3 linked regions of the Homo sapiens genome follow. The protein of the gene in region 2 interacts with the protein of the main gene of each other region in a biochemical or structural test. Each region holds a gene or a part of one and is shown on either strand. Other genes may lie near its edges. The genes, in order: PDCD6, DIAPH3 and NCKIPSD.

Region 1 (3,748 bases), on a different chromosome or scaffold from region 2:
GCAGCCACGACAGAAAGAAGAGCAGAGCTTCACACTCAGCTTCCGAGGCACGGGGAAGGTAAGTGGCCCCAGCTCCCCTGGCTCCTGGGTCTCGGCCTAGAACGCGAATCTAATTCCCAGAGCTGACCCTCTGACTCTCCAGGGCCCACAGCACTGGTGGAGTCTTGGAACAGCCCTGTCAGGAAAACCTGCTTTAATTAGAAACAGACCCTCGCCTATGTCCTATTTGCTTTCAGTCTAACTCCAGGTCCAAATACAAAAGAATCTATAACTACCTTTATATGTAGTTGCAATATGGCTAAAAAACATAGAAAAATTCAGTGTGAATTACTGCTGCAGAGAAAATGATAAATCACGTGGTCTCTTTTCAAGAACAGAGGTTAATACAGGACTGCAATAAGACTACTCCTGGTTTGATCAGAAATATGTTACAATTAAATGAAAATCCACAGGATGAAAAATCATGTGAGAAACAGCATCGATGTTTCTTCCCAACAGTCCACAACCCTGTGTGCAACCAGTGGCTGTTTTTCACACAACCGTTCCACGACGTGCACCGTTCCACGACGTGTGTGGTGTGTGGACCAGGGGCTGTTTTTCATACGACCATTCCACGATGTGTGCAGTGTGTGTGGACGATGCTGTTGCGTGCAGGACCCACTGCGCACCACACACCAGCAGGGAAGGATGCTGGGTGAGCTGCACCCCAGGGTAAGGGCTCCGCAGAGGAGTGGCTCCCAGGCCATTCCTCTCCGGTGGGGAGGTAGCTCCCCATGTATCAACACCTTTTCTAGCACTAAAGGCTGAGCCCTGCCACTACTACACTTCCAAGTTTTCTCTCCCTCCATCAGTGTGACGTAGCAACATATGCACGACCAGCAGGGCACAGTCATCTGGAAAAGCCCCCAGCTACACCCACACTAGGACTCAGACACCTCACCACACACAGGCTCCGCAAGGAACTCAGGGAATCCTCACAAGACTAAAACACGTGCATGGATGGGAGGCGAGGGAATGAGCCCCAGGCCGCTCTGGGAAACCTCGAGACACAATGCCATGGTCCCTGTGAGGCAGAACTGAACCTGGGATTCCATATTAAAGAGGTCTGAAGGGGGCTGCACCTCCCAGCAAAGGGAACCTTCCAGAAATCAAGTCGGGTAGGGATGGAAACATGACTCTCCTGAACACCTGCCTCCCAGGCCTGCCTGCCCCTGGAGCTGCAGCTCCCACCTGGCTACGGGGGATGGAGACACAGCACGACTCTCCTGAACACCTGCCTGCGCCTGGAGCCTCAGCTCACACCCCGGCTACCGTCTGGGCATGGGGGTGCACACCTGTAATCCCCACTTTTTGGGAGGCTGAGGCAGGAGGATTGCGTGAGCCCAGGAATTCCAGACCAGGCCTGGGCAGCACAGGGACACCCTGTCTCTTAAAAGAAACAAACAAAAACCCAGCTGCCTATACAGCTGGGGAGACCCTGGACCCAAAGAAATGATGCAGACCCTCACATTAAGGCTACACATGAACCCACAAAACAAACAAAAATTACAGAAGCATCAAGGAAGTTGGTCACTCTGTGTGGGCTTGAGCAGGAAAAATATCTGGCTGTAGACCACCCTCCCAAGGACTTCAAACACAGTCAAGGAGCTCCATGTCACAAATATCTAGCGCTTTTCAAAAAAGCATGTTCTTAAAACTGAAGACTATCATATGAAATATTTGAATAAAGAATGGAATCACAAAAATAAATAAGCAATGTCTATCAAAAACACCCAGATAAGATGTGAAAGTAACTAATAATTTAGAAATTTTAAATATATGTCATCTTTAGAATTAGAAACTGAAAGGACAGGTTACACCGTACATTAAAAATAAACAGAATCAAGAATAGAGCAAACATACACGGAGAGATGTGAAAAGGTACAGAGACGGAGGGAGAGGGATGAAAGGGCCGACGCTCATCTAAGTGGAATTCCAGAAGGGAGCAAAGTGATACGGACCCACAGACAAAGGAAACACAAGCGGGTACCCAAGCGGGTCGGATACAAAGCAGCCCAGGTTGGTCCGTCTGCCGATACTTACATATGATCGACCTGACAGTCACTGGATTAAAGGGAGTCCACGTGCCTGAAAACAAACAACAACAGGAGTTAAAGTAAAAGGAAAATCTTTCTGGGACACTGAGTTTGTGATCTATACCTGGAGGCACCAGGAAAAGCAGTGGGGGCTCTAAGGTAGTGGTTTTCTAGACACTCCAGGTGACGTGTCGGCTGCCATGACTCCTGGGAGGGGGCCAAAGCACTGCCTGGTGGGTTCACACCCTGCTGTGTGTGGGAGTCCTTCGTGGCCTCCCAGACCTCCAAGGCCGTCCACAGTCATCGCGGCTGGACATGCACTCTTATTTAACAGATAACCAAGAAATGGTTCTGTATCATTTTACACACAGAATTTTTCAAGGATGCAGTCACCAGCTAAGTTGAGAAGTTCGCACTTAGTTTTGTTAGAGGACTTCACGAATTCCCATTTCAGAAAATCCATCATCAAGGCCACCACTGCCTGCAGACACCTGAACATAGCTTGGTCGCTGTGGCATTCACACTAATTCTACTGAAAGGTGCAAGTACCAGACCCCTTCCTTCCGTTCTCCCTCAGTAATCATCCTAAAGCACGGTGAAGACATCCATCACACCACACTTCAAACATTCCTGACAAATTACGGTCTGGGCTTTATATGATTTTCCTTGAAACTGAATAGGAAAGCTGTACTATCCTCAGACTCATCGTTGAATCTGATACCCTTGAGCGCTCACAACCATTTATCAACTCTGAGAATGAAGATTCACTGATGACCTTCGCACACAAGAACCTATCTTCAGAGTGATTTGTACCTTCAGTAATTTCCATACTCACTAAAAATGAACTAAAAAAATATTTTTAAGGTCAGGAGAGACCAGTGGCTCTCCTCATACCCCGTCTGTGTTAGACACACAGTTTTTTTTTTTTTTTATGCACAAAAATGCCACAGTCCTGGGCAGTACACAGAGACAGCCCCCTGATCTCAGAGAACAATGTCAGGCTCCTGGTGGAGCACGGGCGGTGGGGTCTGCTGGCATGGTCCCTTAGGCCTCTACGTGCCACCACTCTGGGCTCATGGGGCTCCTCCTAGTGCCATGCCCGCTCTCACCTGAAGTGCGTCCCCTCCTAAGACACACACACCCTCCCTCCAGCTCCTTCCTTTCCTTCCTCAGGGAGACTTCCACGGGGGTACCACATTCTCCCAGCCCAGAAGTTAAATCCATTTGCTCCGCCTGAGCACCTCCCAACTTCCCCTTGGGAAGATCCCGCCCTCCAGCAGTTATGCAGGGAAGCTGTGCTCTTCCCACAAAGGCAGGTGCACCTGAACCTGAGGCATACACACAGAGCAGCACTCAATGATCCGCCCTCCAGCAGTTATGCAGGGAAGCTGTGCTCTCCCCACAAAGGCAGGTGCACCTGAACCTGTGGCCCACACACACAGCACTCGATGACCCACCCTCCAGCAGTTATGCAGGGAAGCTGTGCTCTCCCCACAAAGGCAGGTGCACCTGAACCCGTGGCCCACACACACAGCAGCACTCGATGACCCACCCTCCAGCAGTTATGCGGGGAAGCTGTGCTCTTCCCACAAAGGCAGGTGCACCTGAACCCATGGCATACACACAGAGCAGCACTCGATGACCCGCCCTCCAGCAGTTATGCAGGGAAGCTG
Region 2 (3,748 bases):
AAGTGCTGGGATTACAGGCATGCACCACCGTACCCAACCCCTTCCTATATTCTTGCTCTGCCATATGTAGCGCAGTACATGGGCCTTGTCTTCAGGCTAGCTATCCTCATGACCAGAAGACTATGGCAAAATAAGCATCACATCCTGACTATGGCCAAAGGCAAAAAATGGGCTATTGCTTCTTGTTAGCCTTTTTCTTTCAGATGTTGTATTTTTCAATGCTAGAATTTCCACTGTGGTCTTTTTATAGTTTCTGTTTCTCTACAGAGGTTTCCTATCATTTCATTCATTGTGAGCATATTTCATTTATATTCTTAAATATGGTTATACAACTGCTTTAAAATCCTTGTCTATTAATGCTTACAACTGAGTTATCTTGAGACTGGTCTCCATTGATTCCTTTTTCTTGTTTGTATGGGTCACATTTTCCTGTTTTTTCCTAATGTCAAATACCTTTGCACTGTATCCTGAACATTGTGAATGTATGGTGTAGGGACTCTGAATTCCTTCTATTCTTCTGAGAAGTATTGCTTTTTGTGTTTGTTTTAGCAGGCAGTTAACTTGGCTGAACTCTCAAACTGCACATACTGTCCCATCCGCTGGATGGGACCTGAAATCTTAGTTCAGATATGTTAGCCCTACCTGTGCTGCTTGGAGTCTGTCCCATACATGTAGGGTTCAGAAATTTGAGGACTCTACACACAGAATTTGGGGCTACCCATTTGTGGCTCCTTCTCCTCTCCAGGATTTTCTCCTCATTTATCAGCTATATGGTCACCAGAACTCTGCCCTCTGGTTTTTTATGCCAGTACAACTGTGGGCTTATATTCTAGTTTTAACCACCCCACATGACCCTGATTAGGGGCTTCCCTTATGCAAAAAGCTACAAAAAATGACAAACTTATCCAGTGCTAGTCCCTTCTTCCAAGTATTGTCTCCAATAGCCATGTCTTTTGATCACTCTCCAGTGTTTTAATAGTTGCTTTTTATAATTTTGTCATGTGAGAGGTCTGTGGTCCAATGAGATCTCAGCCAATACTGGATGCAAAGTTTTTGTTAGTTCCTTTTTACAGAGCAAAGACATCTTTCTCAGAATTCCCCAGCAGATTTCTCCTTTAGCTTACTGGCTAGAATTGTTTTCATCTGCTCTTTGTTAATCCTCTTTGTTCTGGGGCCTGCATGCCTGGAAGGATTTGGCTGCAACACACTGGCTGGTATACATTAATGAGTTGGGTTACAGCTTATTCATTAAGCTTGTGAGCTTAGTTAATGTGTATCCACCTCAGACATAGATTCAATCTCCATGTGCTGACCATATCACTGTCCAAGGCCCCAGATGTCCAGATGTGTGGAACTTTGGGGCTGCCTCCTCCTGGTGGAGTTCAACAGGCCCAGGCAGAGGTTGCTTGAACCACCTGTGGTTGCCCCAGCTAAAAGGGGAGAAGCAGCCACATTCCACAATCTGGACTGGCTGGGAAGCTGAGCAGGGAGTTCTAGAGTGGCAGCCCAAACTCAGGCAGGCAAGCACTGAAGGATGGTTCCTCATCCTCCCAGCAGGAGGTTGGAGGCTATGAGATACCCTGTCTCTCAGGGGCTGGAAGAGCAAAGAGCAGTATCTCTTTCAGACATCCTGCTGTCAGAAGTTACACCACAGCACAGTCATACATTGGGTTTAATTGTTGCTCCTGCCTGGCCCCTCTTAAAAAAAAAAAAAAAAAAAAAAAAAACCAAATAACCTGTAAAGTCATTTTTTGCCATATAAGGTAACATTCACAGGTTCCAGGGATTAAGGAGTGTCTACCTTTCAGAAGATCATTGTTCGGCCTACTACACCTGCTTCCAAATAACCCAAAGTAATTGGCAAACATGCACTAATCTCATTAAGCTTACTGGGATTTCATCTGTACTCAAATTCCTACTACGTGTACAATCAACAAAAATTCTCCAACCTTGTATATCTTCTCACCTCGCAGCCTGCCTATAATCAGAAAATCAATTCTATATTCATATTATATATTAATTAAAGGCATCACTAATTATTGCTAATGGTTCCTGGATGAGAAAAGAAGCAGTAAAGATTAAAGTTCCCAACAGCTATGGGAGAGAATTCAGGACAGTGATTAAGAATGTGTATTCTAGGCCAGGTGCGATGGCTCACGCCTGTAATCCCAGCACTTTGGGAGGCCGAAGCGGGTGGATCACTTGAGGTCAGGAGTTCAAGACCTGCCTGGCCAACATGGTGAAGCCTCATCTCTACTAAAAATACAAAATTAGCCGGGCGTAGTGACACGTGCCTGTAATCCCAGTTACTAGAAGGCTGAGGCAGGAGAACTGCTTGAGCCCAGGAGGTAGAGGTTGCAGTGAGCCAAGATTGTGCCACTGCACTCCTGTCTGGGCAACAGAATGAGACTTTGTCTCACAAAAAAAAAAAAAGAAAGAAAGAAAGAATGTATACTCTGAAGCCAGCTTGCCTAGATTCAAATCTCAGCCTCATGAACTGGCAGCTGTGTGATTTTAGGCAGCTTAATCTCTGTGTACCTTGGTTTCCTCCTATGGCAAACAAGATTAATAATACTACCTACCTCACAAGGTTGTTCTAAGAATTAAAGGAGTTGATAATTACAACGCACCTAGAACAGTGCTTGGCTCACTCAGAAAGGTTAACTAGTATTACCATCAATGCCCAAACATGGTAAATATACAGAAATTAAAGGACAAGGTGAAAAAATCTCAAAACCGGCCAGGCGCGGTGGCTCACGCCTGTAATCCCAGCACTTTGGGAGGCCGAGGTGGGCGGATCACGAGGTCAGGAGTTCGAGACCATCCTGGTTAACACGGTTAACCCCGTCTCCACTAAAAATACAAAAAATTAGCCGGGCGTTGCGGTGGGCACCTGTAGTCCCAACTACTCGGGAGGCTGAGGCAGGAGAATGGCATGAACCCGAGAGGCGGAGCTTGCAGTGAGCCGAGATCACGCCTCTGCACTCCAGCCTGGGCGACAGAGCAAGACTCCGTCTCAAAAAAAGAAAAAAAAGAAAAGAAAAATCTCAAAACCAACACTGAAGGTACTACAATGACATAATCAATCAATAATTAACAATCTATTTGATGGAAACGATTAGACGATTTACACTGAAGTCTGTGAGAACTTTTAGAGGACTCTCCTAATTAAAAAGAACTCCTTCATCAACTTGGACCACCAATTTACAGGCTCCCTTTGAATGGACTGACCTACATCCTAGAGATGGACACTTCTAGAAGCCACATGTCCTGCTCTGCCACCACTACCTGTGTGTTGCCAAGAGTAATGAGAAACAGGTATTACTGAAAGGCTTTCCACAATCTGTAGGACAACTGTTCTGTTCTACAAAGGATATAGGACTCAGGTCCAGGTATTGAGTGTGGCCTAGGGCAGGTTCCAAGTTTAATTCCTACGGAATTTTATCTGCCTTCACAAAGTCTCCACCCAGATACTTGCCCTGTCCTCTCAGCCTCCTCCATCTCTCTTCTATGCCCCAGTAGCTATCCCTACCATCTCAATGCTCACGGCTTAAGATATTTTCAAATGAGACCAAGTTGGTTAATTCACAAGCATCCCAAAGTCAATTGATTCGTAGCACAGCCAAAGTATCATACAATTACAATAGACTAATTTCTACTATTTATACTTATCTATGGGAAGAGATATCTAAGCTACAAACTCTTTTACCCAACTCACAAGTGACTTGAAGCCCGCAACTATACATTT
Region 3 (3,748 bases), on a different chromosome or scaffold from region 2:
AGGTCCCAGGCCCTCGGGCAATGGGCCCTGGCTTAGGACCTGTGATCAGCTGGTCGGTTACTGCATTCTTACCATAGTGTGCATAGGGCACTGCCTCTCCCATGGAGAAGACCATGGCCAGGATGAGGGCAGAGTAACAGAGTTTCTGGTGGTCTGGGGGGGACAAGGCAGGCAGTCAGAGTCCCCAAAGATGGCAGGAAACCCCAGCAGATGGCAGGAACACCCTCCAGATAGCAGGAAGTTCCCTCCTACCCCGCCCTCCAGCCTCACCCTGCGTGTCTGTCTGCATGTCCCTCGCCAGCTCTACAGGCAGCACGGATGACACAAGCGTGGAGATGATGGCTGCATCCAGGCTGCACATGGCGCCAAAGCACTTGAGGAGCAGCAGCCGCAGTGATGCTCGGTGTTCCTGGCAGGGAACCCTGCGTGCTCAGTGCCTGGAACTCCCCCACTATCTAGGTCTCTCCATTACCCCTCCCCTCCATCCTGCACATACCATTTGGTAATAGGCCACCAAGGCCAGGACAGACTCGAACTCGTTTCTCTTGCACATTTTCTTGCAAACTTCAGGGTCTGCATCAGTCTACAGAAATGAGGAAGTGAGAGCATCAGCCACCATGAGCGGAGCTGTGCAGCCGCACAAGAGAGGGCTGAGCACATATGTGTAGGGGAGACTCCTAGCACTGTGAGGGATGCTACAGGGTGGGGGCCACTGTTCCCCATGTGGGGTATGTGTGTGGGACCCCACCCTTACCAGAATATGCAGCAGCTCCTCTAGGTAGCAGCGGATGACACCCTCATCCTCATATAGTGCCCAACTGCGCTGCTGGGCGTCGTCCTTCCGGCGAGCCAGGTCTGCAAAGATCACCTCCAGCCTCTGCTGGTCGTGGCAGACCTGCCCTGAGGGCAGGGCCATGCTGAGGTCCTAGAGGGAGAGGGCAAGGCATGACTCAGCACACTCCCTGCCCTCACCATCTCCAGGGAGCCTCCAAGGCCTGGAGAGTCCATCTGTGGACTTTTACTCCATGAACTCAAGTCCCTCCTGGCCCACACTGGACAGGAGGCTCAACTCCAGTCTTGATGACCTCCCAGGACAGGAGTCAACGGGAGACTCATCTGTAGGGGGTTTTCAACAGCTCGCCTCTCATCCCAGACCTGGATAAACACCCCCAACTAGGAGGGCCATGAACTCTGTCACTGCCAGAATGTGACTCTGAGACCTCACTCTCCCATTCCACACAAAATGGCACAGGCCTGTCATCTACCAACTTGCCACATTTTCCTTGAACCCTGCTGACCAGGCACTAGCTGTTGTGCCCAGCACAGCCAAGCCCATTGGCCCACTCCCCAACACCCAAACCAGAAGTGTAACAGGAACCATGGAGCACTAAAGAGGGACCTTTGGTCTGTCTGACCCCCATCATGTATGCTGGGCTCACTGCCCCCATCCTGCTCATGAGTGCCAAGGATCCCACCCATCCCATGATGCCCACACACCTCACTCCCTCTCATCCATGTCAGCACCTAGGACTCCATCCCAGCTCTCCCAGCACCCATGTCTCTTACTGCCAAGGTCAGCAAGGCACTACCCTCACCCACGCCGTGTCCATTCCTTCCCTGCAGCCAGACAGAACTCTTGGCCACCCGCATGTCGTCTTATCTGTCACCTGCCCCAGGTCTCACCTCCTCCTACAGCACCCACTCCCTCACTCCCTGTGTTCCAGTCCTGCAGGCCTTGTTCCACTTCCTCCCACAAGCCAGGCTCAGTCCTGCCTTGTGGCCCTTGTCCAGGCTGCGCATCTGCCTGGAATGCTTGTCCTTCCTTTCTGCTTCAGAAATCAGCTCAACGTCCCCAGTGCCCAGCACAGTAAGAGCTCAGAGCCAGAGCTTGAGAAATACCTGTAATGTACAGGCTGGACAAGTGTGTGACGGTGGGAACAGGGTGGGTAGCAGGGTGGCCCTGCTGTGCCGCCCACCCTCACCTTGCCCTCTACGAGTGAGAGGAGGACCTGCTCCATGACTGGTGAGCTGGCCGGCACCGAGGCCTGGATGTGACCCACTATGATGCCGATGGCCACCCGGCATAATTCGTGGCTCAGGCCAGTGTTTCTCCGCACCAGCTCCATCAGCTCGGCCCCAATGGTCCTGGGCACAGCCGCCTCAGCTGCTGCCTTCTCCTCTGTGGTCCCCAGGCTCAGTGTACCCAGGGCTTCCAGGTCATCAGAGGCTGAGGTTGTACCAGTTGCCACTTCTTCTTCTGCAGGGGGTTCAGGTGCTGATGCCTTGGAGGGAGGGGGCTGGACTTGGGACACGGTGGTGTGGGTGCCTCGGCGGGGCACAGGTGGGGGTGTGGGTGAGCAGCTGGAGCCTGGTTCAGATGGGCTGGAGCTGGTATAGAGCGTGTCCAGGGAGGTGCTGCTGACTGAGGAGCCGCTGGACACAGAGTTACCCCCGGAGGGCATGGTGTTGTGGCCACCTGCGAGCAGTGAGTAGAAGCTGGGCCAGGGCAGCCCCCTGGAAAACCATACCCTTCACAGCCCAGATCCCCTGTCCCCTAACACAGGGCCTAGTTTCTCTGCTAGGCACTGCCTCCTCACAAAGCCCAGAGCCCCTAATTGCCCCAAAATGGGAGTCCTGTCCTCTTCCCCAGCTTAGAGCCTCCATTTCCCTGACACAGGCAGCACAACCATTCCAAGCATAGGGTGCCTCCACCTGAATTCCCCTAACCCTGCCTTCTTACCACTCCCAGAGGCCATCAGGGCCTCGCGGTCTCGGCGCTTCACTGGTGGGGGCGGTGTGGTGGGTGCTGCTCGGCGAGGCTGTGGTGGGATCTGGGAAGATGGAAGTGGGATCTGGAAGATGGAAGTAGGATCTTGGAGGACAGACTGACATCTAGAGCGTCAGCGAGGCTCGGGCCCTGAGCCCTGGCTGTGGGCAGGACTATGGCTCTGGGCCGCATCACTCCTGAGTGGACCCCTTGAGCCTCTGGATGAAGCCTCAAGTTCCACCCACCTCCCTTCTCCACGATGTCCTCCCCACACACCTGGTAGAGGCCTCCATCTGCCCCAAGATGCTCAGAACTGGGTAGGCTGTGCTGCCGCTCGAACCCAGCTCGACACACCCCATTGGGCTGCCTGGCTGCAGCAGCATCCAAGTGGTGGTCACTGGTTGATGAGGTCATAACTGCAACACTGGAGGCTGAAGGGCCTCTGCGTGACAGGGTCTCTTTCCGGTGGTGGATCAGCTTCCTGATGGAAGGACAGGAAGACTATTGGGGGGTTGCATCTCACAGCTCAAAGTCCTCATATGCCCCTGTGGGATGCTGGGACCCCATAGCCCAGGCCCCTCAGACATCCCCATCTCCTCCATGCTCCACCCCAGCCTACAGTACCCCATACTATCCTCAGTCCTGCGCTCTGCACACCCCTGGTGCTCACTGAAGGACCCGACCCCACCTTGCTCACTGGGAGGTGCCATTCCCCCACCACCCTTGCCAACCCTCGCATTTCCCAGGCCCACCTGCCCCATGACACTCATTGAAGAACCCCACCCCACCATGCTCACCGGGAGGTCCCACTTCACTCCCCTCAACACTCACTGGAGGACTCCACGCTGTTCCAGGCTGTACTTGCCACCATCCCGCATGGCTGTGTTGTGTACAGCCTCGATGGCCCGGTCAATGGCCTGGAGGACATCCTGCTCCAGGCCCTGGGGGGGGCAGGGGACAGCAGTTAGACCTGAAGGCCAA

Evidence for each region.
Region 1: the proteins of DIAPH3 (region 2) and PDCD6 interact in far-western blotting, tested with the Homo sapiens proteins (one study listed by BioGRID).
Region 3: the proteins of DIAPH3 (region 2) and NCKIPSD form a complex in vitro, tested with the Homo sapiens proteins (one study listed by BioGRID).

Annotation. Positions count from the first base shown.
Region 1 is NC_000005.10:302,556-306,303, reverse strand, and holds part of PDCD6 (programmed cell death protein 6), read right to left. Parts: intron 2,128-3,748; coding exon 2,083-2,127; intron 1-2,082. UniProt on the Homo sapiens protein: Calcium sensor that plays a key role in processes such as endoplasmic reticulum (ER)-Golgi vesicular transport, endosomal biogenesis or membrane repair.
Region 2 is NC_000013.11:60,157,206-60,160,953, forward strand, and holds part of DIAPH3 (protein diaphanous homolog 3), read right to left. Parts: intron 1-3,748. UniProt on the Homo sapiens protein: Actin nucleation and elongation factor required for the assembly of F-actin structures, such as actin cables and stress fibers. Required for cytokinesis, stress fiber formation and transcriptional activation of the serum response factor.
Region 3 is NC_000003.12:48,679,305-48,683,052, forward strand, and holds part of NCKIPSD (NCK-interacting protein with SH3 domain), read right to left. Parts: intron 3,709-3,748; coding exon 3,599-3,708; intron 3,249-3,598; coding exon 3,044-3,248; intron 2,853-3,043; coding exon 2,741-2,852; intron 2,477-2,740; coding exon 1,983-2,476; intron 926-1,982; coding exon 755-925; intron 584-754; coding exon 497-583; intron 410-496; coding exon 271-409; intron 154-270; coding exon 73-153; intron 1-72. UniProt on the Homo sapiens protein: Has an important role in stress fiber formation induced by active diaphanous protein homolog 1 (DRF1). Induces microspike formation, in vivo. In vitro, stimulates N-WASP-induced ARP2/3 complex activation in the absence of CDC42.